7 linked regions of the Homo sapiens genome follow. The protein of the gene in region 3 purifies or fractionates together with the protein of the main gene of each other region. This does not show direct contact. Each region holds a gene or a part of one and is shown on either strand. Other genes may lie near its edges.

Region 1 (4,371 bases), on a different chromosome or scaffold from region 3:
GAGTTAGTAAATTTTTTCTGTAGAGCAAAGCAGTACTTCAGGTTTTGCAGGCCACATAGTTTGTTGCAACTACTCAACTCTGGTGATGTTGTAGTGAACAAACAGCCACAGACAAAAGTGAATGAACTCGTGTGGTTGTGTTCCAATCAAACTTTATTTGTAACAGGTAGCCAGCTGGATTTGGTAGTCTGACCCCTGAAAGTGTCAGTCAACCCAACCCTCTGCACAGACAGGGAAGTTCCCTCCAAAGACTTTATCTCAGCTCCTCAGCTAGCTGCTCTGCATCTACTGCTCCCACCTTTCCCCTGACACTGGGGTGCAGAAGCCTTACCTGAGTGACTGTCCGGCATATTTTCAGCCCCTTGTCATGGGTCCCATCATCGCCATTACGCTCTGTCTCATCCTCAGAGATGCGAGAGTCATCAGCATGAAGATCCACAACAGCCTCCTGCCCCGCCAGGGGTTTGATGTCGGGGATGAGGCTCTGGGACACAGATACCCCCCACCCCGTTACACTGGGCCCATGTCTACTCCCACCTTAACAGGTCTCATCCTCCCTTCCCTGGCTCCTCCCACCTCACCTTTAGTGATTCAGTGGTGATACTGATGGAAGGTTTCTTCTGTGTGGTGGCTGTGCTGGCTCCCCAGCGTCGTTTCCGACCAGGCTGGCCCCCCTCTGTGTCACTGTTTCCAGCTGGCACCCCCTTGGTAGCTGCTGTCCCCAAGAAATAGACCCAACAGTTAGATGGTCTCAGGACCTCTGCTAGTTCAAACCGTAATACCTACAGGTTACCTCTGGCTGGAGTTTTGGTAAAAGGTTAACTTAAAGAAATCATATTTGGAGGCTGAGTGTGGTGGCTCACACCTGTAATCCCAGCACTTTGGGAGGCCAAGGCGGGTGGATCACGAGGTCAGGAGTTTGAGACTAGCCTGACCAACATGGTGAAACCCCATCTCTACTAAAAATACAAAAATTAGCCAGGCGTTGTGGTGCATGCCTGTAATCCCAGCTACTCAGGGTGCTGAAGCAGAATTGCTTGAACCCGGGAGGCGGAGGCTGCAGTGAGCCAAGATGGTGCCACTGACTGCACTCCAGCCTGGTGACAGAGCAAGACTCCGTCTCAAAAAAAAAAAAAGAAAAGAAATCATATTTGGGAACTGGGGAAACCATGGCTTCAGACTGAACACTGATCTAAAAGCAGTAAGGGAGGGGTAGCTAGTTTGATGAGCCGTTTAAACTTTTAATGGTAGACAGTAATATCAAGTAGTGTGGAAGAAAAACTGAGAAGGACATGTAAATGCAGAAGAAACAAGAACACTATGTGATACTAACATCTAGGCAGAACTAAGATCATGATGGGATCTGGTCTTCCTTTAATTTTCACACTACAGATTGATATTTAAGTTATAAACATCTATTATACTTTTGTAATCTAGAGTTCCTCATTGGGGAAAATGTTAAAATTGTTACTGTTTGAGGTGTGGGGCACTTTCATTTCCTTGGGTGCTCTCTTAGAATAACGCATAAACAAGGTCAGGCACGATGGCTCACGCCTGTAATCCCAACACTTTGGGAGGCCAAGGCAGGCGGATCACAAGGTCAGGAGTTCAAGACCAGCCTGTCCAACATGGGGAAACCCCATCTCTACTAAAAATACAAAAATTAGCTGGGCATGGTGGCGCATGCCTCTAATCCCAGCTACTCAGGAGGCGGAGGAGGATTGCTTGAACTGGGACCCGGAGGCGGAGGTTGCAGTGAGCCAAAATCGCACCACTGCACTCCAGCCTAGGGTACTACAGAGGGAGACTCCGTCTCAAAAAAACAACAACAAAATACCCAGAATAATTCATAAACTGCTAAGCATCACATAGGAGTCCCTGAAACTCATTCCTTGTTGAGTATTCAGGTATCTGAAAGAATAAATGCCTCTAAGGCTAAATGGGACATGGTCTCAGACACCTCACACTGTATCTCATTAAAATGTGACTGGAGCAATATGATGGGGATTGTCTCAAGTTTTGAATTCCAAAATGAAACCCTACATAGGAAAGGATTCAGATTTGCTAGGCACAAGGGGTGGGGCAGGAGGGAGTGACCCAAGAATGCCATTGAGAATGAAATTCTGGTTCTCAATGAATGCTGGTTTTTATGGTATTCCTGACTTTTATCAGGGATTTGGGGCTGGACTTACAGACAACGGAGATCTTCCTCTTGAATGATTTGGGCAGCGAGCTCTGTATGAAGAAGAAAAAGGGGAAAAAAAAGAGAAAGAGAGACACCCCACAGAGAGGGGGGAAGGAGGTTAGATGGGGCAGTCTTAGCTTAGCCTCCAAAGACACAGATAGAGTGAGAGAGAGAGACAGAGAGAGACACAGAGACAGACAGAGACCAAAACAGAAGCGGCAAACGGCAAAAACGAAGCAGAATCAATGCAAGTTAGAGAAAAAAATAAAACTAAACATCAGAGCAGGGAAAAGTCATCTACTCCGTATCACACCTGTGTATTAGCTTAACCAGAAATAAGCTGGAAGAGGAGTTCAGTAGCCTCTCAGCCCCCTAAAGATGTTGGTCATACCCCCTCTTTCACCGTCTGAGTCGAGAGGACACCAAGCCAAACAAACTGTGCCCCAAACTGGGTCATCTAGTCCTCCCAGGTCCTTCCTTGCTAACTCGAGGAAACAAGGAAAACCAACTTTGGATGGCAACTTCAACAAGGTAACCCTCCTTTCTTCAATGGCCAGACTGATGCCCACTGACAATGGCTTTGAGATGCTTGGACAGCAGACTGTCATGTCAAGACTGCCCAGACCCCCACCACACTGTGGAAAAGGGCAGCACCAGACCCACTGGAGATGAGGCTCTTGAGCCAAGTGCTAGCAAAAAGAACTCAAAGGTGTCTTTGATAAAGGAAGGTTTTTATGAAGGGCAGATTGTCCCCAAGGAGATCCTTAGACTTTCCAGCCACCGCAGGGAGCTCCAGCAGAGTCTTACTGTTTCCTCTCCAACCAGGGCTCAAGCCTTAGGGGCTCTGCCAAAGACCAGAAGACATCTTTGGGACAAGTCTCTACCCCAAACACTCAGTGGGTGAATGACGAAAGACTATGGGGGGCGGGGGAGAAAAGTGAGAGAGAAAAAGGGAATAGAGTATTTTCAAGTGTAGGTGCTTATTTCTGGAAAAACTAAGACCACTCTACCACTCTTCTAAAGGGTAGGGCAGAAACCTCGTGATGAAATCCCTTTCCCATCCACCCCCACCCGCAGCCCCGTTTGTGTCGTCTAACCAAGTCTCCTTGGTCTCTGTTAAGGGCCAGCCTGACCCCTAGCTGGGCCGCTCTCGATGGGTAAGTTAGTGAGAAAAACAAAACAAAAAAAAAGGTCTTAATTAAAACAGGAAAAACATGAACCAAATAAATAAATAAAAGAAATCAGAAAAAATAAAGATATAGAAAAAAATAAAATAAAATATTAAAAAAAGAAGAAGAAAATAAAGAAGAAAATAAACTAGGAATATGACAAATGTTCCAGGTACCATCTCACACCTGGGATCTTCAGTTCAGCCAATCGCACCTCACTGTGTACTGTATCTAGTCAACCGCCGGTCCAATCAGAATGAGCCCTCCCTGCTAGGCGCTGTGCAATTGGTGGGGGGTTGGGTTGGCAAAAAAGGTGGGCGCACGGCGTGGTAGTCAGCACGGCACTGCCAGAGTCCTCCCAGGGGCGCAGGGGGGGCGGGAGGGAAACGTGTGGGGGGACGCTGCCCAGTTTCCATGATGTCAAGACAGTTCACTGGCGGTGGCCAGGCTCAGCGAGGGATAGAGGGGGGAAAGGGGCAGAGACATCAGTCCTGGCCCTGAAGGGACATCATCTTGCAGTCCCTGATGAGATGGCCTGTGAGTAGCAGGAATGATCCTTGCCTTTTATCGTGAGAGGCAGGCAGGACCCTATGTCCACCAGTGGCAAGCTGCAGCAATAACACCACCCAATACTTGGAATCCAGGTGATGACTCCAGAGTCCCTTTCTCCTCTGCCTGTAACTGGGGAGGGGGTCCTCTCACCGAGTGGGATCATGGAGCCTCTGATGAAGGTAGCCTGGGGGTAGGTGAATACCCCAGGACCTGGCAGACATTCAGCAGCAAGGTCAGAATACTTCTCTTCGGAGAGTTGTGGCTGGCATCTCCTCAGGGACTCCAGCTGAGACAGTGGTTCCAGTCAGGTGGATGAAATGAGTCCCTGCCTCCAGGGATGGAGGAGAAGTTGGAGCAACCAACATGCTGCCCTTCACCATGGACAACAGGGACCAAAGGAAAGTCCATCTGATGAGCAAGTGGTGACACATGGGCTGGGCTGTCATCAGCATTAAATCCCCAGGG
Region 2 (4,371 bases), on a different chromosome or scaffold from region 3:
TCTTTGTCTTCTCATCTCTCATGGTAGAGTGCCATTGAAATTCTGGGCTTTACTTCAGATGAAAGAGTGTCCATCTATAAGCTCACAGGGGCTGTGATGCATTATGGGAACATGAAATTCAAGCAAAAGCAGCGTGAGGAGCAAGCTGAGCCAGATGGCACTGAAGGTACCAAATGAATCTCCATCTGGGTTTAATGAGAGAATATAGGCAAAAATGTCCATTCCAAAATTCAAGTCTTCTTTACAGCTGAGCTCCTGATGGACATACTCAGATGTACCCACACACAGACTTTCTACAAAGTTATTTACTCAATACTATGCCCCTTTGAACTGTGGGTCCCAGAGTAAGTCATATTAGGTATCTGAATTATGTTTCTGCAGTTGCTGACAAGGCAGCCTATCTCCAAAATCTGAACTCTGCAGATCTGCTCAAAGCCCTCTGCTACCCTAGGGTCAAGGTCGGCAATGAGTATGTCACCAAAGGTCAAACTGTGCAGCAGGTAAGTGCATGACCTCAATGAATCACACACATCCCAGGCCTTCATGACATGTCTTTAATAACACCAACAAACTTTATCTGTGAAGGTGTACAATGCAGTGGGTGCTCTGGCCAAAGCTGTCTACGATAAGATGTTCTTGTGGATGGTCACCCGCATCAACCAGCAGCTGGACACCAAGCAGCCCAGGCAGTACTTCATTGGGGTCTTGGACATTGCTGGCTTTGAGATCTTTGATGTGAGTTAGCAGAAAAATTGTACCAAAAAAGTTTCCAACAAGCAAGCTTGTTGCTGCAGTCATATAGCATGCCTGTAGTCACTTATGGAAAGGGTCTATGAAAAATAGCTGCACTTTAAACTTAACTGACACATGAAAGAGCACCAAAAGACCGTGAAAGGAAGTGAACTTTGGAATGAGACAGACCTGGATTCAAACTCCTGCTCTGCCAATTACTAGCTGTGTAATAATGAGAATTGTACCTGATTGATCATTGGGCAAATTCAACTAGGACCTGTAGGTAAAGCACTTAACATTCCAGATCACAGATTCACTTCTGAGATCTGTCTGCTAGTTTCAAGATTTCTGAATTTTCAGCCCTTAACACAGTCCCCAAGCATGCAGGCAGCACTCAGTAAACAGTAAGATACTGAGGGCAACAATAGAATCAAAGATAGCAGTGGAGAAGACAAAGTCTTTAAAAGAAAGACTTTGAGATTCTGTTTGCCGAGAAATGAAATGTGTTTAATTATTAGGATAACCTCTGCAATACCCAGGTATTGAGTATAGAAATGGCATCGTAAATAAACTCAAATTTGTCTGCCTAAGGAAGAATACCTGCTACACAGCTTAGGAAATAGGGCTACTGCAGTCCTCCACTTGACAGCAGTATCTCGGATGTGTCTCATTTAGAGGTCCCAATTCTAAACTTTTATCTGTGTACGGACTGATTGAAACTGGATGAAATTTTAGAAACGGAAGCACTTCCAGACATTTCCAAGCCAACGTGGAAAGAAAGGAATAATCTGTCATCAAGCAGGAACAGAAAAAGCAATCCACACTTTTTAAAATAAGAGAACTAATGACAGGGTACTTGCAATCATTTTGAGCTGCTTCTTTTTTTTTTTTTGAAGTAACAGCTTTATCGAGATATAATTAACATATCATACAATTCACCTATTTAAAGTATAAAATTCAATGGTTTTTAGTATATTCACAGGTACATGCTATCATCATAACAATTTCAGAACATTTTCATCATCCCAACAGGAAATTCTATTTTGTCCTCCCCCTAGGCCACAGAAACCCCTAATCTACTTTCTGTCTCTGGTTTTGGCTGTTCTGGACATGTCTTATAATGGAATCGGATAATATGTGGTCTTTGTGACTGGCTTCTGGCACTTCGCATATGCTTGCCAGATTCATCCCCCTCATAGAATTCCTTTGACTTTTGTGTATGGTGATAATGCCCTTAAACAAGGGCATCCTCAATTGTGTTTCTATGTAGGTGTCCCGAATAATAAAGCAGGGCAGGTCTACTCAAGTTCTAGGAGTAGTTACAAACACTGGCTCTGGCATCAAAATGTTGGGGTTCCTGCCATGACCCTTACTACCATGGTCTTACACAAGTTACTTAGCCTCCCTAATAGTGTTTCCTCACCCATGAAATGAGCAAATGATACCACCTACAAAGGTAGCTGTGAGGATTAAATGCAGTAACTTATACAAGGCACTCAGCATAGTGTCTACTGTAGAGTAAATGTTCACCAAATATTAGCTGTTGAATTTTTATTATTAAGGACAACATACAGACCATAATGGCTCAGATCTAGCAAATTTAGCTAGTTTACAACATAATCATAATCATTAAGAAACCTCTGACTAACAAAAACAAATACTATAAAAACCAAACAACTTTTAAAAAAAAAACTTTTAAGTTCAGGGGTCCATGTGAAGGTTTGCGACATAGGTAAGCTGTGTCGCCCACGTATGAAGCCTAGTACCCATAAGTTATTTTTTCTGATCCCCTCCCTCCTCCCACTCTCCACCCTCCAATAGGCCCCAGTGTGTGCTGTTTCCCTCTATGTGTCCATGTGTTCTCATCATTTAGCTCCCACTTATATGTGAGAACATACAGTATTTGGTTTTCTGTTCCTGCGTTAGTTTGCTAAGAATAATGGCCTCCAGCTCCAAACAACTTTTTTTTATTGCATAGGAAAGCATCATTCAGAGCTTGTTGACAGGTGTTGAAGAGACAATTTTAACAAGTATGCTAACAGCAGCAAAAACTTCATTGTGTAGGTATAGGTAGGACAAAACGATACCATCCTAAGAGGGCAATTTGGCTAACTAAAAAAACACCCCTTTCAAAGAGAAGATTTCATTATAAATTGAATGCTAATTTGTATTTTCAACTCATTTAGTTCAACAGCCTGGAGCAGCTGTGCATCAACTTCACCAATGAGAAACTGCAACAGTTTTTCAACCACCACATGTTCGTGCTGGAGCAGGAGGAGTACAAGAAGGAAGGCATTGAGTGGACGTTCATTGACTTTGGGATGGACCTGGCTGCCTGCATCGAGCTCATCGAGAAGGTTGGCTTGCTTTTTGCAGACCACAGATCATACTGCTGTACAGTATTTAAAAGAAAATCATAAAATCTTGATATAGGCAATGGCTAAATATTTCTACTTGTGAAAAACATGAGGAGAATTCCTTATTTTGCCAACTCTGAAGTAGATATTCTGGTAAAAGGAGATTAAATATTTTCTATAGAGTCCAGAACACAACACTTACCCACAGTTTGCAATACAAAGTCTTACATTTAAAGTCATCTTTCCTTACAAAAAGTGCACTGACTAGAATATTTTTTACTTACTGTTTTTTGTCATCCTAAAGTCATTATTACTGCATTCAAAGTATGAATTTCTACTACTGTACGTTAAAGCAGAGGCTTTTAAAATCCAGTGTGCGAAAGACCCACCAAGAATACTTGGTACAATTGCAGGTTTCCCTTGTCTCACCCCTAGAAATATTTTCTGGTAAGTGTAGGATGAAACATCGGAATCCTCATTTTGAGCAAGTGATTCTGATGCAGCTAATTCGCAAGTCACACTTGGAGAAATATTGCTCTCAGGTCTTTGGGGTAAAGACACAAACTCCACAGGAGCACAGCCTTCATCTGTCTTACTCTGTCATATCCCAGAGCCTGATACAGCACGTGGCTCCTGATCAGCACCCAATAAATATTTGTGAAGTTAATGACTTCTGACCAAAGGAACGAGTTTTCGTTAACTCTGTAGAATTAAAGGATGAATTTACTCAGATGGGATAATTATTAATGTTAAATGTTATTTCTATAAGCAGACAGAATTCAAGTGGCATTTATTTCTTTTCATTCTTCCAGCCTATGGGCATCTTCTCCATCCTGGAAGAGGAGTGCATGTTCCCCAAGGCGACAGACACCTCCTTCAAGAACAAGCTGTATGAACAACATCTTGGAAAATCCAATAACTTCCAGAAGCCCAAGCCTGCCAAAGGCAAGCCTGAGGCCCACTTCTCTTTGATTCACTATGCTGGCACCGTGGACTACAACATTGCCGGCTGGCTTGACAAGAACAAGGACCCCCTGAATGAGACTGTGGTGGGGCTGTACCAGAAGTCTGCAATGAAGACTCTGGCTCTCCTCTTTGTTGGGGCAACGGGAGCGGAAGCAGGTAATTATCAATATAATTAATCTTTTACCTAATGTATAAAACATAACTAGAGGCCAGACACGGTGCCTGTAATCCCAGCATTTTGGGAGGCCAAGGTGGGTAGATTGCCTGAGGTCAGGAGTTCAAGACCAGCCCGGTCAACATAGCAAAACCCCGTCTC
Region 3 (3,391 bases):
AACTGTAAAATGGGATTGTAATCCCTTCCCTGCCTGACGCAGGAATTGTTATGAGGCCCAGATGAGATGAAAGTCAGCGGTCAGGGCTCTGTAAGTTGAAAATGGCTGGATGTGTGTGGCCCTGCCACTGCAGGGATGGCCCAAGGTCACACAGAAAGTTTGCTGCAGGAGGAGCCCTCCCCACCAGTCTTCATCGCTTGCCCTGCTTCTCACTTAGGCAGATGTCAACCAGAATGAGATACAGCCAATTTGGCTTTGATGACCCAGCTGAGAGGGAAATTTAGATACAATTCAGGAATATCATGCCCAAAAATAGTGGTCCCAGCAACCAGGACACAGAGGGAAGACCTGGATATTGTCAGTGATTGGTGGAGGGGGACATCTTGGACCCTCCTAGGCCTGGTGTCACATCTCCCATCTCTCAGACCCCACAGAGGCCAAGGGGCCTTGGCTCTGACCCAGGTTAAAGAGAGCCACCAGCCCCCAGGCTCAGGGAGCTGAAACCACCCATCCGCAGAAATCTAAGGGCAAGGAGAAATAGAAATTGTCTGTTCCTTCCCTTCAAAGTGTAAGGCCTCTTCCAGGAGCAACTGGAGCCACCACAGCTTCTCAGTGACATTGGGAGGGCTTCGGGCCCAGGAAAAACCCAAGCCTTTTGTCCTGAGAGCCGAGCCACAGCGGATGCAGTGGCGTCAGCATCCCAGAGCGGCAGCTTCTCTCCTGCCTGTCACTGGGGACTGGTTGCTCTCCACCCATCCAGGAGGAAGGGGTTAGGTCCCAGTCTTACACTCTTATAGGGTCTCATGGACATAGGCCTATGCCTGTTCTGATATCTATAATTTTTTAAACTCAAAAGGACCAAAACACTCCTGAACCCTCATCTATACGGCCTGCACTGGGCTTGGTGTTTCCTCCTGGCCCAGGCAGCTCCATCTCTTCTGCCATTCCTCCTGGACGAAAGTGGCAGGACCCCACCTCTACCACTTCCCCACAGGGTCACTGCACAGCGGCTTCAAAGACACGCCCTGTTGAAGGGGAAACATCCTCCCCCCATCACACTCCAACTCGTCACCCCAAAAGGGAAGTCAAAGCACAGGTCCGTGGGGCCTATGGTTTGTAGACACTGACACAGTGGTTTTCAAACCAGGTGCTGCGGAACCCCTGATATTCCACAGAGCTTTGTCAGGGGATGCTAAAGTGGGAAGATGGGAGTGGAGGCAAAGGATAGGTTTCCAGCCCTCCTCCCATTTCCGCCGCCACCAGAATAACTCTGCTTTTATCTGTCTTGCCTACTGAGATTTCATTTTCAAGCTTTCTTTGAAGAAGAACTTCAAACCACCATCTCGAGGTTTGATCTTAGACCAGCCAGCACAGGTTCTATTCTTGCTGTTCATGTTGGAATGGCTCCAGCGTTCCAGTACAAAGTGTCTTTGTGTTGGAACTTGGGTCACAGACCCAGGCACAAGCATTTATACACACACACACACACACACACACACACACACACACACACGTACATAGTTGATGGTTTTTCTAGCCAACCCACCCTGAAGCTCTGGCCAAGGTTTGATTTGGACAGGGACCTGGTGCTCAGTGGGGATGGGTCGTGACCCTGATATTGGCCCATGAAGCATGGGGAGCTCTGGAGCAAGGAAACAGGCTCAATCCCCCACTGAGGACTTGTGTCTGCACCCCTATCTGGCACCCCACTTTCCTGGCCTAGGCCCAAGGGACACAGCAGGAGAAGCAGTGTGATAGGAGAGAGGCTAGGGTTAAATTCATCTTTACACAGCGCCGGATGGATGGAAATCTTGGCTCACATAAAAGACAGACTCAGGGAGGATTTTATGACAAAAGTCCCTCCTTTGAGGGCAGGATTCCCCCAGGAATCCTGGACACTTTAGTGAGAACTGGACCAGCCCTTGGCACAAAACCCTGCCTGCCCTGTCCCCCACTCCCACCCCCCAGGGAATTCTAGGTGAAAATGTGAAGCTCAGGGCACAGCAAGCGCATGACACGGGTGTATTACATTCGGTCCGAGTGTGTCCTTAGTTTCCCTGTGTGCAAAATGGGGCTAGTCCAGGCTCTTCCCACCTCACTGGGACAATTGCAAGGGTCATAGGAGAGGTGGGTATGATAGGTGGTCATATGAGGTGGTGAGTATGAGAGGTGGGTGCCTCACAAACTCGGGGTATGGTCCTGACCTGCATGGCAGATGAGCAGAGCACTTGGGAACGAGCATAGGAAGTGCCATCTTCCCGGGCATCTCTGCTCAGTGTTAAGGTCTAGCCACAGACACTGTGGGACCTGCCTCTTCCTATGGAATGGGGGCCTGCATGGGTTGTGTCCTGGGGCAGGAGTGAGGGATGGCTGGGAAGAATCTCCAGGTCTGTGGCCCTTGTGTTGAGTGATTATTTTGTGACACTCTCATTCCTGGACCACCTGCCAGGTTTATCTGTTATACCTGTGGCATTCTTATTATGTCAGACAAGTTATTATAGTTCATTCAACTCTAACAAATGAACAAAAGAACAATAAATAGGAGGCCATTAAAGGTCTTTTGTGGCAGAGGATGCTGGCTGTGCTTTCATTTCTGTCTCATAAGCCCATGGCAGGTCAAAGACCAAGAAATGCCTCCCTGCTGCCCTGGACTGGCAGATGGGGCTCATGACTGGGTGAGGTGCTCTCTTCCCTTGTCTGTGGCCCCAGCTCCAGCCTGGTCCTTGTACCAACTTCTGGAGACTGCCAAAAACTTTTCTCCTGTCCCTCTTCTGCCACTTTTCAGCCTTATGGCCTTGGGAAGCTGGCATACCTCTCATCCCTCTCAGATACCACAGGATTTTGTGACCCATGGTTTGCTCCTGGGGTGAAGCCATCCTATCTTCTATCTTTGGCACCACTGACCACATCAGTGGGAGTCCTCACCCCAGCCCCAGCCCTGGTTCTTGTTCACTTCTTATCTCCTGCCCTGCTGGGTCTTCCTGAAGTCACTTCAGTTTTCAAAGACTTATGTGCCACCTGGTCTAACAGAACATATGGGAGGAGTAAGGATATCAGTGAGGAAGAGTCGATGTTCTAATAGATAATGTACTGTATTAACACAAAAGGAAGACGCCCATGCATATAAGATGACTTTCCTAGAAAATTAATTATATATGAAATATATATATATATATTATTTATTTATTTATTTATTTATTTATTTATTTATTTATTTTTTGAGACAGCGTCTGGCTCTGTTGCCCAGGTTGGAGTGCAGCGGCGCGATCTCGGCTCACTGCAAGCTCCACCTCCCGGGTTCACACCATTCTCCTGCCTCAGCCTCCTGAGTAGCTGGGACTACAGGCGCCCGCCACCACACCCAGCTAATTTTTTGTATTTTTAGTAGGGA
Region 4 (4,371 bases), on a different chromosome or scaffold from region 3:
CAGTTAGCCAAGGTCTCATTTCAGCTTGGGCAACATAGTGAGACCCCATCTCTGCAAAAAATATAAAAGTTAGCTGAGCGTGGTAGCATGTGCCTGTAGTCCCCGTGTCTTAGGAGACTGAGGTAGGAGGGTCGCTTGAGCCTGGGAGGTCAAGGCTGCAGTTAGCCAAGGTCTCATTTCAGCTTGGGCAACATAGTGAGACCCCATCTAAAAAATAATAAAATAGGAAATAGGTTTTAAAAAATTATATTCTTTTTTTTTTTTTTTTTTTTTTTTTGAGACGGAGTCTCTCTCTAGTTGCCCAGGCTAGAGTGCAATGGCGCGATCTCGGCTCACTGCAACCTCTGCCTCCCAGGTTCAAGTGATTCTCCTGCCTCAGCTTCCCAAGTAGCTGGGCTTGCCACCACGCCCGGCTAATTTTTGTATTTTTAGTAGAGACGGGGTTGCACCATGTTGGCCAGGATGGTCTGGATCTCTTGACCTTGTGATTCGCCCGCCTCGGCCTCCCAAAGTGCTGGGATTACAGGCGTGGGCCACTGCGCCCAGTGAAAAAACTACGTTCTTAAAAGCGATTTCCTCAAGCAAGAAGCCTAAAAATAATAGCTAACATTTATTAACCATTTACTCTGTTCCATCAGTGAGCTGAGGGCTTGTACAAGTATTGTTTAATTCTAAGACTTCTGTGTGGTATAGGTAAAATTACAAGTTAGAAAAGTGGAGGCTCAGATGTGGGCCTCATGTTCTCCTTGACTTCTGACCTTTTCCTCTCTCACACTGTCCCTTACCTCCCCACCAAGAGCTGCATACCTAATTTTTTATTTCTCTTCTTGCTCTTACCCCCCCATTCCCTCTAAGATTTGCCCTCTTGTCTCTAGTTGCTGCTGCTACCTTCGTTGAGGCCTCATTGCTGCACCCACGTTACTGGCCATTGCCTCCTAACAGAGTTCCCTTTCTTGCTCCGTTCTTCACATTGGCCCCAGTTGTCAGTTGTCTTTCTGGCATAAGATCTAATTACCTTATTCTCCTGTTTAGACCTGTCTAGTTTCCCCATGGCCTGGAACATAGCCCTTTCTCTATACCTCTGACATACACGGGCCTTCACTGTTTGCCCAGCCTTTACTTTTTTCTTCTTGAGACAGGATCTCACTCTGTCGCCCAGGCTAGAATTGCTGTGACATAATCATGGTTAACTGTAGCCTCAGCCTTCTGAGCTCAAGTGATCCTCCTTCCTCATCCTCCCCAGTAGCTGGGACTAGAGGTGCGTGCCATATGCCTGGCTAATTTTGATATTTTTTCTAAAGATGGGGTTTCTCCACATTGCCCAGGCTGGTTTTAAACTTCCAAGTTCAAGTGATCCACTTGCCCTCGGCCTACCAAAGTGCTGGGATTACAGGCGTGAGCCACTGTGCCCGGCTGCGTTCTTTTATTAATATCTTAAATGAGCTACTTTTTCTGAGCCCCTATTTTATCTTACAAAAGTGACGGGGCTATAACACAGATTTAAAATATGTTTAGGAACATATATAAACTGTCGGCTTAAAGCCCTCGTAGAAAATTTAGATCTTGTTAAACAGTACCCTCTATCTACAGGTACTATGTGCATATGTAGTAAAAGTATAAAATCAAGTGTGGGCATGATGAAGTCACCATCTAGTGGTTATTTAGAGGACAGAGTACAGCTGGTCATGTCATCAGGAGGTTTTACCTCTTTGTTAAGGTTACATTACTTAAGCCAGGTGATTGTATACATAGGCTTTCTTTATATTCTCTGTATCTTTTGTATATCCAAAATATTTAGGACAAACAATCATTTTTAGAAATTTAACTTCCTTGAAACACTTAGGTTTCTCTTGAAAGTGTTCTGACAACTTGAATTGAGGAAGAAATCAGACTGCCTGCCTTAAGAGTTTATTTGTTCAGTGTTACATGCTTTGCCCCATGAACCACCTGCCAAATTTATATTATACACAGAGACAAGGGTATAAGATCTAGAGTCTTCCTGGCTGGGCGTGGTGGCTCACATCTGTAACAGCACTTTGGGAAGCCAAGGCAAGCGGATCACTTGAGGTCGGGAGTTCAAGACCAGCCTGGCCAACATGGTGAAGCCCCATCTCTACTAAAAATACAAAAATTAGTTGGGCATGGTGCCACGTGCCTATACTCCCAGCTACTGAGGAAGCTGAGGCAGGAAAATCAGGGAGGCAGAGGTTGCAGTGAGTTGAGATCACACCACTGCCCTCCAGCCTGGGTGACAGAGCGAGACTGTCTCAAAAAAAATAAAGAACTAGAATCTTCCCTATCATATTGTATTAGTTCTTAACATGCAGATTTCGGAGCAAGATACTTTCATCCAGTAGTTTAATGATGGTCAAAAATTTCTTCCCATATAAAAGAAGTCTTGATAGATTATTAATTTATTACTTAAATGTTTACCATTTTTAGTCTTTCCTGTGGTCTTGTACTACATCATGGATGTGGTAGAAGAGTAATTGAACTTGGGTTTTTTTGTTTTTTTTTTTTTTTGAGATGGAGTTTGGCACTTGTTGCCCAGTTTGGAGTGCAGTGGTGTGTTCTCAGCTCACTGCAACCTCCGCCTCCCCGGTGGGTTCAAGCGATTCTCCTGCCTCAGTCTCCTGAGTAGCTGGGACTACAGGCATGTGCCACCACTCCTGGCTAATTTTGTATTTTTAGTAGAGATGGGGTTTCTCCATATTGGTCAGGCTGGTCTCGAACTCCTGATCTCAGGTGATCCGCCCGCCTCAGCCCCCCAAAGTGCTGGGATTACAGGCGTGAGCCATTGCGCCCGGCCAGAACTTGGTTATTTATGCCACCTATTTTTATTTTTATTTATTTTTATTTATTTATTTTAGGCGTAGTTTTGCTTTTGTTTTCCAGCCTGGAGGGCTGGAGTGCAGTGGTGCGATCCTGGCTCACCACAACCTCTGCCTCCCAGGTTCAAGCGATTCTCCTGCCTCAGCCTCCCGAGTAGCTGGGATTATAGGCATGCACCACCATGCCTGGCTAATTTTTTATTTTTACTAGAGACGGGGTTTCTCCATGTTGGTTGTGTTGGTCTCGAACTCCCGACCCCAGGTGATCCACCCGCCTCGGCCTCCCAAAGTATCGGGATTACAGACGTGAGCCACCACGCCCAGCCTGAGCTACCTATTTTCTTTTTTTTTTTTCTTTTTTTTATTTTTGAGACGGAGCCTTGCTCTGTCACCAGGCTGAAGTGCAGTAGCTCGATCTTGGCTCACTGCAACCTCTGCCTCCCAGGTTCAAGCAATTCTCTTGCCTCAGCCTCCTGAGTAGCTGGGACTACAGGTGCGCGCCCCAACGCCCAGCTAATTTTTGTATTTTTAGTAGAGACGGGGTTTCACCATGTTGTCCAGGATAGTCTCGATCTCTTGGCCTTGTGATCCACCCGCCTCGGCCTCCCAAAGTGCTGGGATTACAGGCGTGAGCCACCATGCCCAGCCTAAACTACCTGTTTTCTAATGATCTATTTGCCTTCTGTGGATTGGTTAGGCCACTAACTTGAATCTCATGTAGCATTTCATAGGAGTTATATCTGAGAAATCTGGCTTTCAGCCATCAGCTTCTGGTGATTGGAAAACTATTACTTAAAGTTTCATTTAACTTAGGTCCCCCCCAAAGACCCAAACTGAATCTAAAGCCTCGGAGTACTCCTAAGGAAGATGATTCCTCTGCTAGTACCTCCCAGTCCACTCGAGCTGCTTCTATCTTTGGAGGGGCAAAGCCTGTTGACACAGCTGCTAGAGAAAGAGAAGTAGAAGAACGGCTACAGAAGGAACAAGAGAAGTTGCAGCGTCAGCTGGATGAGCCAAAACTAGAACGACGGCCTCGGGAGAGGTGTGTTGTCTTGATGGATATCCCATCTAGGAATCCGGTGGTTCGTAATGGGGGCATTACATCCCCAGGGGCATTTGGGAAATTTGTGTCGTTATCACATTAGTGGTTGTCACTGATGGGCATTTAGTGGGCTGTGGCCAGGGGTGTTAGGCAGTATGCAGTGTTAGGGACAGTTTTACACAATGAAGAGTTGTTCCCTGTCCATTACAAAAGTGTTTACTATTAAAAGCTGGTATTGTATCTAAAAGGCTAGAGACCTACTATAATAAGTAATTGCCCTGAAAAACTAGGCCTGGTAATGAGTGGCTTGTAGAACTGTGTTGATTAGTAAAGAAGGGCAGTATTGTAGATTATGTAGGATACTGTTCTTAACCATATTAGTTGATTCTTGCTGAAGTATTTAGGGCCAAAGTGTGTCTTAATGTCTGTAGCTTTCAAATAGTTTGAGGGAAAGATAAATTTATATGCATATACACATATAGATGAAGTAAGTGATGG
Region 5 (4,371 bases), on a different chromosome or scaffold from region 3:
ATCCTTGGCAGCCACCCAATGCGCCTGGAGGAACCTCAGGTCCAGCATTATGTAATGATACCTGCTGCTTCATCTGGGTGCCCCCCCAACCACAGCTCCTCCTTTGAGACATTCCCATCCTATTGAAATGCCACCTTCTTCTCAAAGCCTTCCTAGGCTTCAATATACACTGCAGCCACCCACCACAGGGGACTTTCCTGTTTTGCTCATTCCTGCCACCAACTGAAGAGTTACAGAAATAGCTCTGTTGTCTAAGGCAGCGCCACACTGCTCACCTCATATTTATTAGGTGCGATGAAGTTTAAGGTCTCATCAGGGTCATACAGGATGGAGAAGGCCAATTCCAACACCTCCTGAAGGAGAAAGGGTTTAAATTAGAGCGATGGAACAGCCTGGGGTCTGCACATCAAGATCTTGGCCAAAGTCCTAGTGACTCGGCATCATCACCAAACATGCTGATTCAGATGAATGTCATCAATGCTCCTAGGCGGCCACAAGTGTGGCTGGAGATGAGGCCCAGCATAAATCAACCTTAACTTACCCACTCCCTGCCCAAGTCACATCAAAGATGTTGTGATATTTTTAAGATTGGAAAAAAGTCATTTTCAACACTCAGAACCCTGGAAGGTCACGATCCATGACTGTAAGTTATCCTAAAAGTTTTTATATTACCAAGATGACTAACAACTTCTATCGTGCTGTATTTGGCATAGGAATGTCTTAACAATTAAAAAACAAAACAAAACACACACACACACAAAATTGGTCACTGTTGCATGATACCAAGGAACTAACTCATTATTTTGAAAGTAAGTACATAAAAGAAGAATCAGCATTTATTCTCGTTTCCTATATAAACTGTACCACTGGGAAACCAATAGTAGATAAGGGCAAGTTTCATGGTTCAGCTCATAAATGAAAAGCAATGACTGCATCAAAATATCATGAGTTTGCAAACCTTAGTTGACTGATGGAATGAGGCACTGAGCTTCAACAGTCTGCTAATTATCACAAAAGGAGAGACCACCAGACGTTATGTGCCTCTTGATAGAACATAATACCACTGATGACACTGGCCAGGAAAAAAGTTAAACCTGAACTGGATCAAACCTCTAGATCCCTCTTCCAATGTACAGATCTGGGACAGAGGAACAAGTTAAACTGTACCACGGGGAAACAATCAGCAAAATTCAGATGCTAGGAAACTACCAAACAAGCAATCTGGTTCTTCAGCTAATAAACTGCAAAGGAAAAGATGGTGGGGGATGGGGGGGCGGGGGAACTTATGAATTAAGAAACTTAAAAGACCAGTCTTAGACTCTGGTTTAGACAAGATGGGTATGGGGGTGTGTGTGTGTGTGTGTGTGTGTGTGTGTGTGTGTGTGTGTGTATCCATATAAACATTTATATATCTGTAGAGAAATTATGACATTTATAAGACAATTGGTAGAAAGTCACCATCAGTGGAATATTTGATCTGAAATAACTACTTTCATTTCCTGTTATGTGTGCTAATGGACTGGTGGCAATGTTATACACTATACGATGTACACTAAATATTTACAGATGAAACAGTGTGATACTTGGGACTTTCTTCAAAGCGATAAAGGAGAGAAACAAGTGGATGGGCAGAACTGGCCATGGTTGCTGAGTCTGGGTGATGTGTATACAGAGGTTCCATCTATTTTTGTGTATGTTCAAAATTCTTAATAAAACATTCAGGAATAGAGAGGGGAAGATGCCAAGAATGCACCTGGAAAAAACCACCACCAATGGCACTCTCCAAGTATCACTGGGCCAGCTACTCAAACTGGCCTCTCTACTCACCTTGTTCTGTTTCAGAGCACTTTTCTCTTTCATGTGGGGACAATCTTTCCCAGTGACAATGGCCTTAATGTCTGCAACAGGAACTGATAAATGATGGGAATTAGTCTCTGGAAGTTCATGCTGCAAGCTGGTCAGTGCCTACATCAGTGCTGGAAGGGAGGTACTGGGGCAGATGCATAGGAAGCCTCAGCCCCAAACTCCAAGGGCTGCTGTATGAGCTCAGTGAGGGTGGTGGGGAGGATGGCCTTGTACTGTTCCCTCCGTCTTGGTCACTCCTGTAGACCACAGCCCAGTGAGGCTGTGTCAAAGCTAACTGAGGGTCACTTCAGGGCTCTTGGATTTATATCCCCAAGGAACGGGACCTTGGTGACTCCCTTCCCCTCTCCTTCACAATAATGGCGATGATGATGCCATCATCGCCAACAGCAGTGGCAGCTGCTAACAGTTATGCTGACTACCTGCCAACCACTCTTCTAAGTGCTTTGCATACATTACTCATGCAATCCTCTTAGGAGGAAAGTGTGGCTATTATTCCCACTTTACAGGAGAAGAAACCAAGGCAGAGGGGAGAACTTGCAATTAATTAGAATTCAAGTTAATTAGGAGCAAAGCCAGGATTTGAATGTGGGCAGTCTGGCTTCACAGCTTCTCCTCTTAACTACTGCCTTTCGACTTAGTCATGTACCACCCTTTACAGTCTACACAATACATTCACACCTGTGAACTCATTGTTTCTCCAAACCACCCCACCGAGTAGGCCAGGTAGAGGAAATCGCTGACAGATAAGGAAACAGGTCCAGAGAGGTAACAGGTACAAGCCCAGATGATCAGCTACAAACAGCTGGACTAGAACTCCTGTCTCCTGACAAGTCCAGCAACCATGACACATCAACAGAGAAATGAACCTACTTTTCTCCTGCAGGGATTCAAATGTCACCTCCCCTTGTGGGTTGTCATCCAAGTCACCATAGTGAAGGACCTTGTGGTTCAGTGCCAACCGGCAGTACCAGAACCGTTCTGGAACACAAGGGAAGCCAAACAGGTGAGCAACGACAGTACTGGGAAAGGCCTGGGCACAAAAGGGGCCATCCAGGCAGGCTCTTCCCGGCACCAAGGATTGCCCCGTCTCCTCTCACCTTGCCTTCGGCGGTTCCCAATCTTTCGGAAGCTGCTGCCCTCACAGAGCCGGTTCAGGCGCTGCTGCTTGATCAGCTCAAGGATCTCGGGCTGGATCTTCTCCCTCAGCTCCCTGGGGTGGACACACACTGGAGTGAGCGGAAGGTCATGGGGACAGTGGAGCTCTGGAAGGAAAGCAGAGCTGGCAGCCACCTCCCCCGCCAGCCTCCCCTGAGATGGAACTTACACAATTGGCGGGGACTGGAAGTCATCCTGACTCATCCTCTCAGACTGGCGCAGTCGTAGAATCTCAGAGTAACTCAGGCTACGCAATTTGCTCTTGAACTGATCCAAAGAGTTGGGTTTGGAGGGCAAAGCTCGAGTGATTTGCTCTCGGACGACTTGCATAACCTAAGAGGAGAAGAACCCAGCCAACTCACACCACTACTCTTGAGAAATGGACAGGCCTATTATGGAGCACCAAGGCTCTTTCCTGCCCCAGGGTCTTGAGCAGGGCAGGCACTACAGACATCTGCTGGGTGAGTAAGGTATACCTTCTTAGATGGTTATTCAGGTCACATGACTGACACTGATAGATGCTTTATTTCCCATATATTTCAATTGGTCAATGGTGTGGGGGAAATGAGCATGGATTTTTGTAGTCAGAAAGAAATGGGTTCACATCTTGACTCTGTCCCTTCAGCAAGTCACTTAACATCCTTAGGTGTGCATCTACTCATCTCTAAACCGAGAGAAAGGAAGACACATCTCCTGATAGGTGTTGCCATAAAGAATATGAGATACCAGCCGGTTGCAGTAGCTCATGCTTTGGGAGGCTGAGGCAGGCGGATCACCTGAGGTCAGGAGTTTGAGACCAGCCTGGCCAACATGGTGAAACCCCGTCTCTACTAAAAATACAAAAATTAGCCAGGTGTGGTGGCTCACGCCTGTAGTCCCAGCTACTCAGGAGGCTGAAGTAGAAGGATCACTTCAACCTCGGAGGTGGAGGTTGCAGTGAGCCGAGACAGTGCCACTGCACTCCAGCCTGGGTGACAAGAGTGAAACTCTGTCTCAAAAAAACAAACAAAAGAATAGAAAGGCAAGCGCAGTTCTGGCACGCTGTGGTGTTTTAAAAAAATGCATTGGTCCCCTTAAAACAACTATTAAAGAAAACAACAGGATACCACACTGCATGCGCAGTATGATCTTGCTAATGAAGGAAAAACCTGTAGGGGATAAAAAAGACTAGAGGAAAACAAAAATGTTTGTCACTGGATGGTGTAAATACAGGTAACTTTTTATTCTTTATACTTTCCAAATTTTTTATGATGAGATGATCAACTTCAAAACACTCGACCCCTAGATGATCAGCTTTTGAGGGCCTGGCACAACAGTGCTCTGCATAGAGTGAGGACTGAAAGCACCGAG
Region 6 (4,709 bases), on a different chromosome or scaffold from region 3:
TCCAGCTTTATTCTCCTGTCTCTAATAGCTTTATATGTTGAATAATGTTCTTTTGAAGGAGATAGTTCATAATTATACTTTTCCCCCTTATAATGGCTTATATATTAAGTTACTTGTGAAAAACAGGTCAATGTAGTATGTATATACATCTAAAGTATAATAAGCCCACCCAGTTTTAGTAATTACATTCATATAGAGTAATTAAAAAAATTTTGAATTATGTTTTTCTAATATACTTACTGCAGAAAACTTTATATTCTAGGAATCCAAAAAAAACAAAATGCCAAGAGGTTTAAAAGACGGTGGATGGTCAGAAAGATGAAAACTAAGAAGTAAATCAATGCTAAATGAAGAATCTGTACTTTGTATGTATAGAATTTATCTAATAAATCATTCATAGATCATTTTAAAGGATCATTATAAAAATCATAAACCTATTTGAGGAAGTGCTCAACCACATTTCATTCTTCTGGAGTAGAACTGTGCCTTGCAATCCTAGAGGAAAAAGTGGTTTAAGAAGGAATTGTTTTCTTTTTAATATATTTAACTGAATTCAAGCCATACCCACATCAGCAACAGCACCTCTTCTACTCTCCCCGGGTTAGAGGGGTGGCAAAAATGGCACGGACTAAAAGGAGAAATGGATATTCCAGCAAAGTCTCTAACTGCAGCCTGTAGACAATTTGCTATTAAAGATTCAGTGCACAAAATATAGCTAACAGCTTTTAAATTTTTACTTTTAACCAGTCTGGGGATTTGCTTGCCTGGTGAGTCTCATATGCCATATTATGAATATGAAAATAATGAAGTTAATTTCCTGTTGCCTTTCTGTGTCAGCCACAATATCAGGTCTAACCCTAATCCAGGGATGCCAGTAAACTGAAGGCAATTTTAGGTTGTAGAACTCAGATTAATTGTAGAAACCATTAATTTTAATTGCTCTAATTTTCATAGTAATCATAAAAAGTATGCAAGTACCTAATATATAAACTCAATTGACACTGTATCTGTAGAAGTAAATTTTTAATGGCTGGTTAATTATATCACTACATTTTATTGCAATATAGTACTCATTTAAGCACTTAAAAATGGAAGGTGTACAAAGATTAAATTAAGACACGGTAAATTGACTAAATATTTGGTTTTTATATAAATAAAGGTCATAACCACACCGTTGACATGTAATACTGTTATAATACAACAGTTAAACTTGTGAGTCTACAACAGAAGTCATCTGTAGTTAAACAGGAAACAAAGTTGAAAAAGACCATGTTAAAACAAAACTACTGGGACTAACAGGTCGGGATTGTAAGTAGCAACAAACATATTCACTCAGCTCCTGAGTATTTCAAGTTTTACAGTACACATTAAAAATGATTTCTTCCATCAACACTATAAATTCAAACTGTCGGATGTTTATGCATTTTGCAAGTTACACTGATTGAATGCTTATATGGGAGTGGGGGTCGGAACATCTCCCAATTTGAAGTTTACATCACCCACATGCTAACACAAACACAACTTGTTCCATTTCCTTCCCCTCTCTCCCCCCTCCCCCACAAAGAAGGCAGGATTTTTGGTTTCTTTTAGGTAATTGTTTTAAAGGATTTGTGATGATCAATTTGAACGTCTGAAATTCAGTAATATTTAACTCTTAGACAACTAAGAGGTTAAAGATGGAAAATAATTTCTCCTAACACTAAGTTAGAAAATCATTTGCATCATGCTGTAAACTAGGAAGCAATGTAAAGCGACAAAAACCTGTCCCCAGTACATAATTTAAAAAATCTAAATTTCAAATCAGCAGAGCTGGTCTACTTCCATGTTGACTATATGCCACAATATAAGTGTGAGCTCTTGAAATGCATAGCTAATGTAGGTAGTCTTCCACTGTGGCAAATGCGCAGGATCCAATTCCTGATCGAGCCATCAGTCCTAGACATTGTGTGGCCTGTCCCATTGCTAGGGCAAGTGGAGGTTGCTTTGGCAGATTGTGGGTTTCTGAGGAAAAATAATTTAAAAATGAGAACAGCAATTAGCAAGACATTTTAAAAAACATTTCAATCAGGAGAATACTGCAATGACTTTAAAAACTACCACTCCCATACCACTCTGAAATATCAGCAAATGAAGGTTTCTAAGCAAAAGACAGATGCCGCCTTGGACATACTATTCTGACAAGGTAGTGTGGGTATTGTGTATTCAACTATAAGATAAACTCTGGCAGAATCAGACTTTTAAAGTATCAGATACTAAAATACTTCCATATTAACTATGATGGGAAAGGTACAATTTTTTATCTGATATTTGGAGTGGAGAGTAAGGAATTATTTCCCTTCTGGTTGATCAAAGTCAGTTGATACTAACTAAAACTAAAAAAGGCACCAGGTTTTCATTACAAGTTTCCACTGATGGGTTCTTCCACCTCTGTGGATAGGACCAAACAGGCTGCCTAGCCATCTCCAAGGCATATATAGGTAATGTTATTTGGGCTGGTGGGGAGTAAGTGGTGGTGGTGACAGTGAGAGAACATACAGCAGAGCCACCCCACAGTTTTGGAGGTGCTAATTTACAGTGGACAGTTCAGACATTTAAAAAAATGCCAATAAATTTTCAGGGTCCTGCATATCATAAGTTTCTTTGTCAGACATTTGTAGTACAAATGCAATAATTAACAAAATTTGTTCCTTGCCAGAGATGGAAAAAAATGAACTAATGGTAAAAGTGGCCAGACTCAGAAGCTGGTAATTTCTCTTTATGAGAAGGCAATGTCCAAACTAATCAATAAAATTACTAATCAGTTCTTTATAGGCACAGTTGACAACAAAGGGCAAAAACAGTTGACACATGGCTAGGAAGGCTTCATATGGTTTAACTCCACTCTTGGTTCAGAGGATGCAATTTGATGGTGGAAGAAAGAAGAGGAAATTTCCAAAAGGGAAAAAGCACAATATCAGAAAGAAGCAAATTCAGGACTTAAAGGTAGAAGAGAAAACAAAAACAGGATTAAGAATAAACGTGTGCAAAAAAGGGCACATAGATTGATGAGAAAGTGTGGTGTCTTGAGGGTTCACAGGGAAGACCGTGCTCAAAGACAAACATCTACAGGGAATATTTTTTTAATTTTATTTTGGCCAAAGGAAGCATCTGGCGATGCATCTTTAACTTTTTTGGATGTATGAAATTTTCATAACACTATATAGATGGACCTACATAATATAGCATGGTATTTATAAACATATACATGCCCATCTATAGCAGTTTAATAATTGTGTCATTAATTTTACAGGAATCGCATACATTTATATTAATAAGATTAAGCACTATTTATGGCTGAATCTACATAATATAGCACAATATGTAAGAGTATATGTGTCTATAGATAATGGTGCTCAACAATTAAATTCCCTTGAAGAACTCAAGAAACTAAATTGTAAGAAAACTGGTCACTTTAAAGATTAGTATCATCTAATAATTAGGTCTTAATGATTACCTACAATATAACTTCAAAAAGACATTTATAGTAAACCATAATTTTCCTTACAATTCCAGCATTATTACTAAGTTACTTTTACCAACGGAGCTAAATGAATTTTGTAGAACCAATGAAAATATAACACATTAACCAAAGAAAATTCACATTTATATACAAATCCTAAATTCCGGAGAACTACAACACTGAGGACACTACTCCTATTCCCAAACTTCAGTATTGGTCCTTAACAAATTAATAAATTTTCTAAGGGCAAAGAAACAGACTGAGTCTTAAATATGAATGCTTTTCATTGCTTCCTTTACATTCTTGCTGTAAGAGTCCTGGCCCTCATTGCAAGTCTCCCTATCTAAACTACTCTTTAATCTACTTTTTGTGGCACTGCCCTCATCTTCCTAAACTAGTTTGAAATATGTGACTAAAAGTCCCTGAACCTTGCAGGGCCAAACAGCACAGCACAGACTTCTAAACTAGACTGGAGTCCCAATTACCTGGGAATTAGACTCTGAAGTCAAATGAAAACTCACTCTTTATATAAATTACCTTTGATGAGAACTGCCCAAAACTCAAACTTGTTTTATGTAAACAATCGACCCTATCACATTTATATAGAAATGCACAATATGTGCAGTTACACAATTCATATAAAAAGTACTTGTTCAGTATATAAATACTATAATCACAAACGCTACAGTGAGCTGCTCATAGGAATGGCAACCAAACGAACATCGAATTAGCGTTTCGCACTTGATGCTCACCCCTGGCTAAGCCTCGCCTTTTAAATTGCTTTTCTCTTCCTCACCCACCCTTTTTATTGGGTAAGGGCATGTAGTTGAATCCGGCTAATATAAATGCAAATAGAATGTGACATCAAGGCTTGATCCTGCCGGGTACTCACAAGTCATCAGGAAGCCCCTTGTGCCCATATTCATAAGCATGGTGGGAGCTGTGATACCAGTGGCTTAGGCTGCTGCTACCCATTGCAAATTTAGCTCAAGCAAAATGGTTGGGAACCAGGTAACAGGGGAGGACCAGCTAGGAATCCTGCCCTCTACTGGATCAGTTTGAGCTTCTCTGATATTCAAGCTCTTCACTCCCTTACTTCCATTTTCATTCTCTCCATCAAAACCTTTCTTGACCTCTTTTCTTCAAATGTACCCTGTTCCCTTCTAGCCTAACTCTTGTGACAATTATTAATCTATGTTCTTAACGTTCT
Region 7 (4,371 bases), on a different chromosome or scaffold from region 3:
GAATCATCAGGAATTGCGATAAAGATACAAGAGCAAGGATCTTTGCCTTCACGGAGCTTCCAATCCACTTAGAAACACAAGGTAAAATCATCCGCATTCCCCAGTCCTGTGATCCCCAGGAAGCTCCTACAATGGCCTTCAGATTATTTTGTCTCTTTCTGTGTATGAAAACCCAATAGAAAAGCCAAAGCCAGGAAGGATAAAGTCAGAAGGGCATGTCAGTACGAGGACATCAGCTACAATACAAGAACTATGCAAAGTGCTTAGTCTTTCCTGTCGGCAAATAAGACATAAGGAGCATCTCACACAGCACATTATTTGGCACATAGTAGGTGCTCATATTTGTTCATTTGACTAGCATTCTGCATGAAACTGTTCCTTCTTAAGTTATGCCTGGTTAAAAAAAAAAATTAGAGGAAATATTTTTTAATAACTGACAAGTATATGTTGAAAAAATGGATTTGAGATATCTTCATAATTTGATTTTTAAGTAATACTAATTTTGTTCTTTAAAATTAACCATAAAGGCTTTTAACAAAATATTCTGCACTGATTATGGCTATGTATAAAGGTTAACAACAGAGCTGTATAGTTAATCCAATTTGGGATTCTCGGCACTGCAACATGGACATTTATTTTTGTTTTTAAAGCCCAAATTCATGACCACCTAGGATGTGTTAACTCATTTCATCAGTATGCCTAGGTCCTTTTACTACATGTTAGATGAGAAATCAGACAGATTTTTACATATCGGTAATGTAACAAATCAAAGGTGATTGTTGAACAACTTCCTATAATTTTATTTTTTACATATCGGTAATGTAACAAATCAAAGGTGATTGTTGAACAACTTCCTATAATTTTATCAGTAACAGCTATTCACACAAAATAGTGTTTGGGTCTGAGAGCAGCTCTTTCTTTAATGTTACTCCATTCGGCAGAACAAGAGTAAACGTTCACGGTTTACTGTAGTCAGTTATTGCCACAGATTTAATTACCAACAATCGCACATTTTACCTTCTATTGCTATTTCACACTTCACTAGGATTAAGTCTGCAGAGATCTTAACATAACTTAAAAGGCATTACAAAAGTTTTCCTTTGAAAAATGTGACTGCCTCCCGTTCCAACCAGGAAATTTGACTTTAAAATTTGTTGCTTCACAAACTTGTATTTTCCTCAACCCAATACAGAGGAAACAGATTCCCTCCACCTTCTGAGGGAGAAAGCAATCCTAACCTCCTTATAAAATGGCTTCTGTCTCTTCCAAGATGTACCCTTTGAGCTCCCTATTTTCCCTCTACAACATCCAATCAACATTTCTACTAATATTAACAGAATATTAGTAGAATAACTCCCCTTAAAGAAAAATTAATATGAATGCTGGAATCAAAACCTTCCTTAGAGAATCTTGTTAATTTCTTTTCAAGTGTAAGTGTGCCTGGATCATAAAGAAAAATCTGTTCCTTTTTTCTGCTAAGTTTAGCATAGCACGCAGCCTCACAACTGCAAAGGCTGTTTCAGGTCCTAAAAAATTCATGGGTAATAAAAATCGTAACTGTTTTTAATAGGCACTTCTGAAAACTGAACATAAGCCATTTCTCCTAAAGTAGAGCTGAGATGGTTTTCTTTTTTAATGAAAAAGATTCTATCAAATTTATTTATATTAAAATGGCTACTAAATTAGTCTTCTGGTTCTCCTTTCTAAACTTACTTTAGAATATGTGAATAGATAAACCTGCAATATTTTCACTGTTCAGCAGGGTTTTAATTTGTGTCAGATTTGCCATATGAAGAAATAGCATATAGGGGTAAGGATGGGACATTATATGGAGATCCAGACGATGAATCTACGTAGTTCAATGCAAAAAACTTATTCCGAAGGCTTTGTTATACAGTCAGAGCCACAGTTTTGATTTTTATGAGGGATGTTCCCACTTTGTTCTTCTGATATAAACTATAAGTACTTTGTTTCAACAACAACAAAAAAGGGAACTGTATCCAAATAAATCCTGACATTCAGAAACATATTCAACACTTGGAAGCTAAAAGAGTAGCAAAAAATAAAACCTGTTGGTCCTTAAAGCAGTCTCATAAACACCATATTTTGCTATTTTTAGGGAGCTGCTGTTATTGAGGTTACTTAGACCAAGGCTTTCACTCAATGGTTCTGAGTCACCATCCTAGATGGCACTGACCTCTAGGTTAATTCAGGCAATCAACATACCCACTCCAGTGAACCCTACTGAGGAGCAGTGGGAAGCGTGCTCTTTTCCAGATGTGTAGAAATTAACTTCCCATACAGCTTAAATTGGCTACAGCACTTCCAGCCTTCCAAGCCCCTTCTTGGTCTAAAACTGTATAGCTTTCAGTACAAATGCATATCCTTCATATTAAAAATGTTCTAACTGCAATTCCTGAAATTCTGTATTTAATTATGGTGGTTTTCCTCACGTTATTGTATAAGTCAATCACAAACACCCATTTAGTCATCACCTGTGCTCTACAGAGTATTAAAAATTCACTGAGCCCTGTACCATGGAGAAAAATGTATGGTAAAAAGATGAGAGGGTTAAACTAGCCTCTACACAATAAAAAGTAATAAAAATATAGAATGGTTTTTCTTTTCTTTAAACTTTCATACTTTAAGCATGACTGTTACCATTCTCAAATACATCCAGTACAGAACTGTAATACACTGGTTCAATGTGTGATGCAACATCTTACATTAACACTTCCTATCCTGGAATGCATTTATAATCAGTTGGCTCAAAGAGTTACACACAATTTTTTTAAGATCCTGATTTTATCTGCCACAGATAAAAACATTATATATTCCTATGTTTCTATACATTTATTCATTATTGTCTGGTCTAATTTCCAGCAGGAGGGTAATAAATAAATTCATTTACTCAGCCAATATTTATTGAGAGCATTCTACGAGTTAGATACTGTGCTTGAAGCTGGGATTTAATAGTGAGCAAAACAGACACAACCTCTACTCTCATATGTTTGCAGTGTACAACAGGAAGAAAATCTGTGCTCATATATAAAATTCATTTCAGAAGACCAAGACCATTTAAGGTCTTCCATTTAAGACTGGCCTGTCGCGACCAGCCTGACTAACATGTTGAAACCCCAGCTCTACTAAATGCAAAAAAAATAGCCGGGCGTGGTGGTGCATGCCTGTAATCCAAGCTACCTGGGAGGCTGAGACAGGAGAATCGCTTGTACCTGGGAGGCGGAGGTTGCAGTGAAGTGAGGTCGCGCCATTGCACTCCAGCTTGGGCAACAAGAGCAAAACTCCATCTCAAAAAAAAAAAAAAAAAGACTGGCCTAAACTTTGCCTGTTTCAATAGCGATAATTCAATCAATTAAAGGGGTTTACTAAGTCTTCCTATTTGATAATTAAGATCTAAAGAGTAAAAGACTTCAAAAACGTGTAAAATAAGAACAGGTTAACAGGAAAAAAATGTTTCTTCTAGGAACTGAAAAAAATTTCAGGATAACTATATGTAACATGAAGCAGGCACTCAAGGCCACTTGTATTACACAGACTTACAAATTATATTAAATGAGGTTATCTATGTACCACCAACAGAAATATTTAGTGAATATTCATGAAAATTAATCAATTAAAGAAAATATGTGCTTTATACCTACAAAATATATAAAAACATTAACCAAGTTAAAATGAAGTATGCTCTTGTATATCTACATAGAATACAAAGAGTAAGTTTTGAGTGTCAAACACTAACATAAATGAATTCAAAGAATGAATAAGTTAAAAGACAACAAGAAAATAATTCAAAATTTAATGTAATATTCTTATAGTGGTAGATTTCAGGGTTCACGTTTCTAAAGTTAAAATAAAAATATATAATATATAAGCATACGGAATAAATTTGGAAGACTGGCATAGTTGCCGAATATAAATCAACATAGCCCAAATTTTACTGCCATACTTTCATCTAGTCAGGTACCCACTAATTGTCTTTTTAAATGTCTCCATATTATTAATACACAAAAGTAAATAATTACATGAGCAAATGCAAGGGTACCCACTTTTATCCCTGTCAAACAAATCCTCTTCCATTAAAATGGTATCAAGCCTTGAACTAAAATTTACTTTGAAAACAATTTTACATTGATTTTCATTTCAAAATACTTATTCCTCCATAAACTAGTTAAAAATATTAGTAGATCTTTAAACTGTGAATGGATACATCTTATAATCTCCTCTAGATAGGTTTGTTTAAATGATAGAAGGAACCAGAACATTCAGTGTACTCATCAAAGCAGCGAATCAGGAATTCCTCAAATGAAATCCCTCCCTAATATCTTCCTTGTTGAAATCAACCGTCCTGGATTC

The links.
Region 1: the proteins of ARRB1 (region 3) and ACIN1 purify together in Homo sapiens (affinity purification with mass spectrometry; one large-scale study listed by BioGRID and IntAct). This does not show direct contact.
Region 2: the proteins of ARRB1 (region 3) and MYH1 purify together in Homo sapiens (affinity purification with mass spectrometry; one large-scale study listed by BioGRID and IntAct). This does not show direct contact.
Region 4: the proteins of ARRB1 (region 3) and EIF4B purify together in Homo sapiens (affinity purification with mass spectrometry; one large-scale study listed by BioGRID and IntAct). This does not show direct contact.
Region 5: the proteins of ARRB1 (region 3) and ELMO2 purify together in Homo sapiens (affinity purification with mass spectrometry; 2 studies listed by BioGRID and IntAct, with this or other methods). This does not show direct contact.
Region 6: the proteins of ARRB1 (region 3) and RANBP9 purify together in Homo sapiens (affinity purification with mass spectrometry; one large-scale study listed by BioGRID and IntAct). This does not show direct contact.
Region 7: the proteins of ARRB1 (region 3) and GNAQ purify together in Homo sapiens (co-immunoprecipitation; one study listed by IntAct). This does not show direct contact.

What each region holds. Positions count from the first base shown.
Region 1 is NC_000014.9:23,063,774-23,068,144, forward strand, and holds part of ACIN1 (apoptotic chromatin condensation inducer in the nucleus), read right to left. Parts: exon of another isoform or gene 3,587-4,371; intron 2,236-3,586; coding exon 2,193-2,235; intron 716-2,192; coding exon 582-715; intron 485-581; coding exon 332-484; intron 1-331.
Region 2 is NC_000017.11:10,508,203-10,512,573, reverse strand, and holds part of MYH1 (myosin-1), read left to right. Parts: intron 1-27; coding exon 28-166; intron 167-381; coding exon 382-500; intron 501-585; coding exon 586-735; intron 736-2,918; coding exon 2,919-3,089; intron 3,090-3,901; coding exon 3,902-4,211; intron 4,212-4,371. UniProt on the Homo sapiens protein: Required for normal hearing. It plays a role in cochlear amplification of auditory stimuli, likely through the positive regulation of prestin (SLC26A5) activity and outer hair cell (OHC) electromotility.
Region 3 is NC_000011.10:75,259,304-75,262,694, reverse strand, and holds the end of ARRB1 (beta-arrestin-1), read left to right. Parts: 3' UTR 1-2,573; downstream 2,574-3,391. UniProt on the Homo sapiens protein: Functions in regulating agonist-mediated G-protein coupled receptor (GPCR) signaling by mediating both receptor desensitization and resensitization processes.
Region 4 is NC_000012.12:53,030,162-53,034,532, forward strand, and holds part of EIF4B (eukaryotic translation initiation factor 4B), read left to right. Parts: intron 1-3,644; coding exon 3,645-3,873; intron 3,874-4,371. UniProt on the Homo sapiens protein: Required for the binding of mRNA to ribosomes. Functions in close association with EIF4-F and EIF4-A. Binds near the 5'-terminal cap of mRNA in presence of EIF-4F and ATP.
Region 5 is NC_000020.11:46,368,616-46,372,986, forward strand, and holds part of ELMO2 (engulfment and cell motility protein 2), read right to left. Parts: intron 3,355-4,371; coding exon 3,191-3,354; intron 3,077-3,190; coding exon 2,964-3,076; intron 2,845-2,963; coding exon 2,737-2,844; intron 1,911-2,736; coding exon 1,828-1,910; intron 354-1,827; coding exon 276-353; intron 1-275. UniProt on the Homo sapiens protein: Involved in cytoskeletal rearrangements required for phagocytosis of apoptotic cells and cell motility. Acts in association with DOCK1 and CRK. Was initially proposed to be required in complex with DOCK1 to activate Rac Rho small GTPases.
Region 6 is NC_000006.12:13,620,492-13,625,200, forward strand, and holds the end of RANBP9 (ran-binding protein 9), read right to left. Parts: intron 2,002-4,709; coding exon 1,871-2,001; 3' UTR 1,007-1,870; downstream 1-1,006. Other genes in the region: U3 small nucleolar RNA-associated protein NOL7, read left to right, coding at 263-336. UniProt on the Homo sapiens protein: May act as scaffolding protein, and as adapter protein to couple membrane receptors to intracellular signaling pathways. Acts as a mediator of cell spreading and actin cytoskeleton rearrangement.
Region 7 is NC_000009.12:78,024,441-78,028,811, forward strand, and holds part of GNAQ (guanine nucleotide-binding protein G(q) subunit alpha), read right to left. Parts: intron 1-4,371.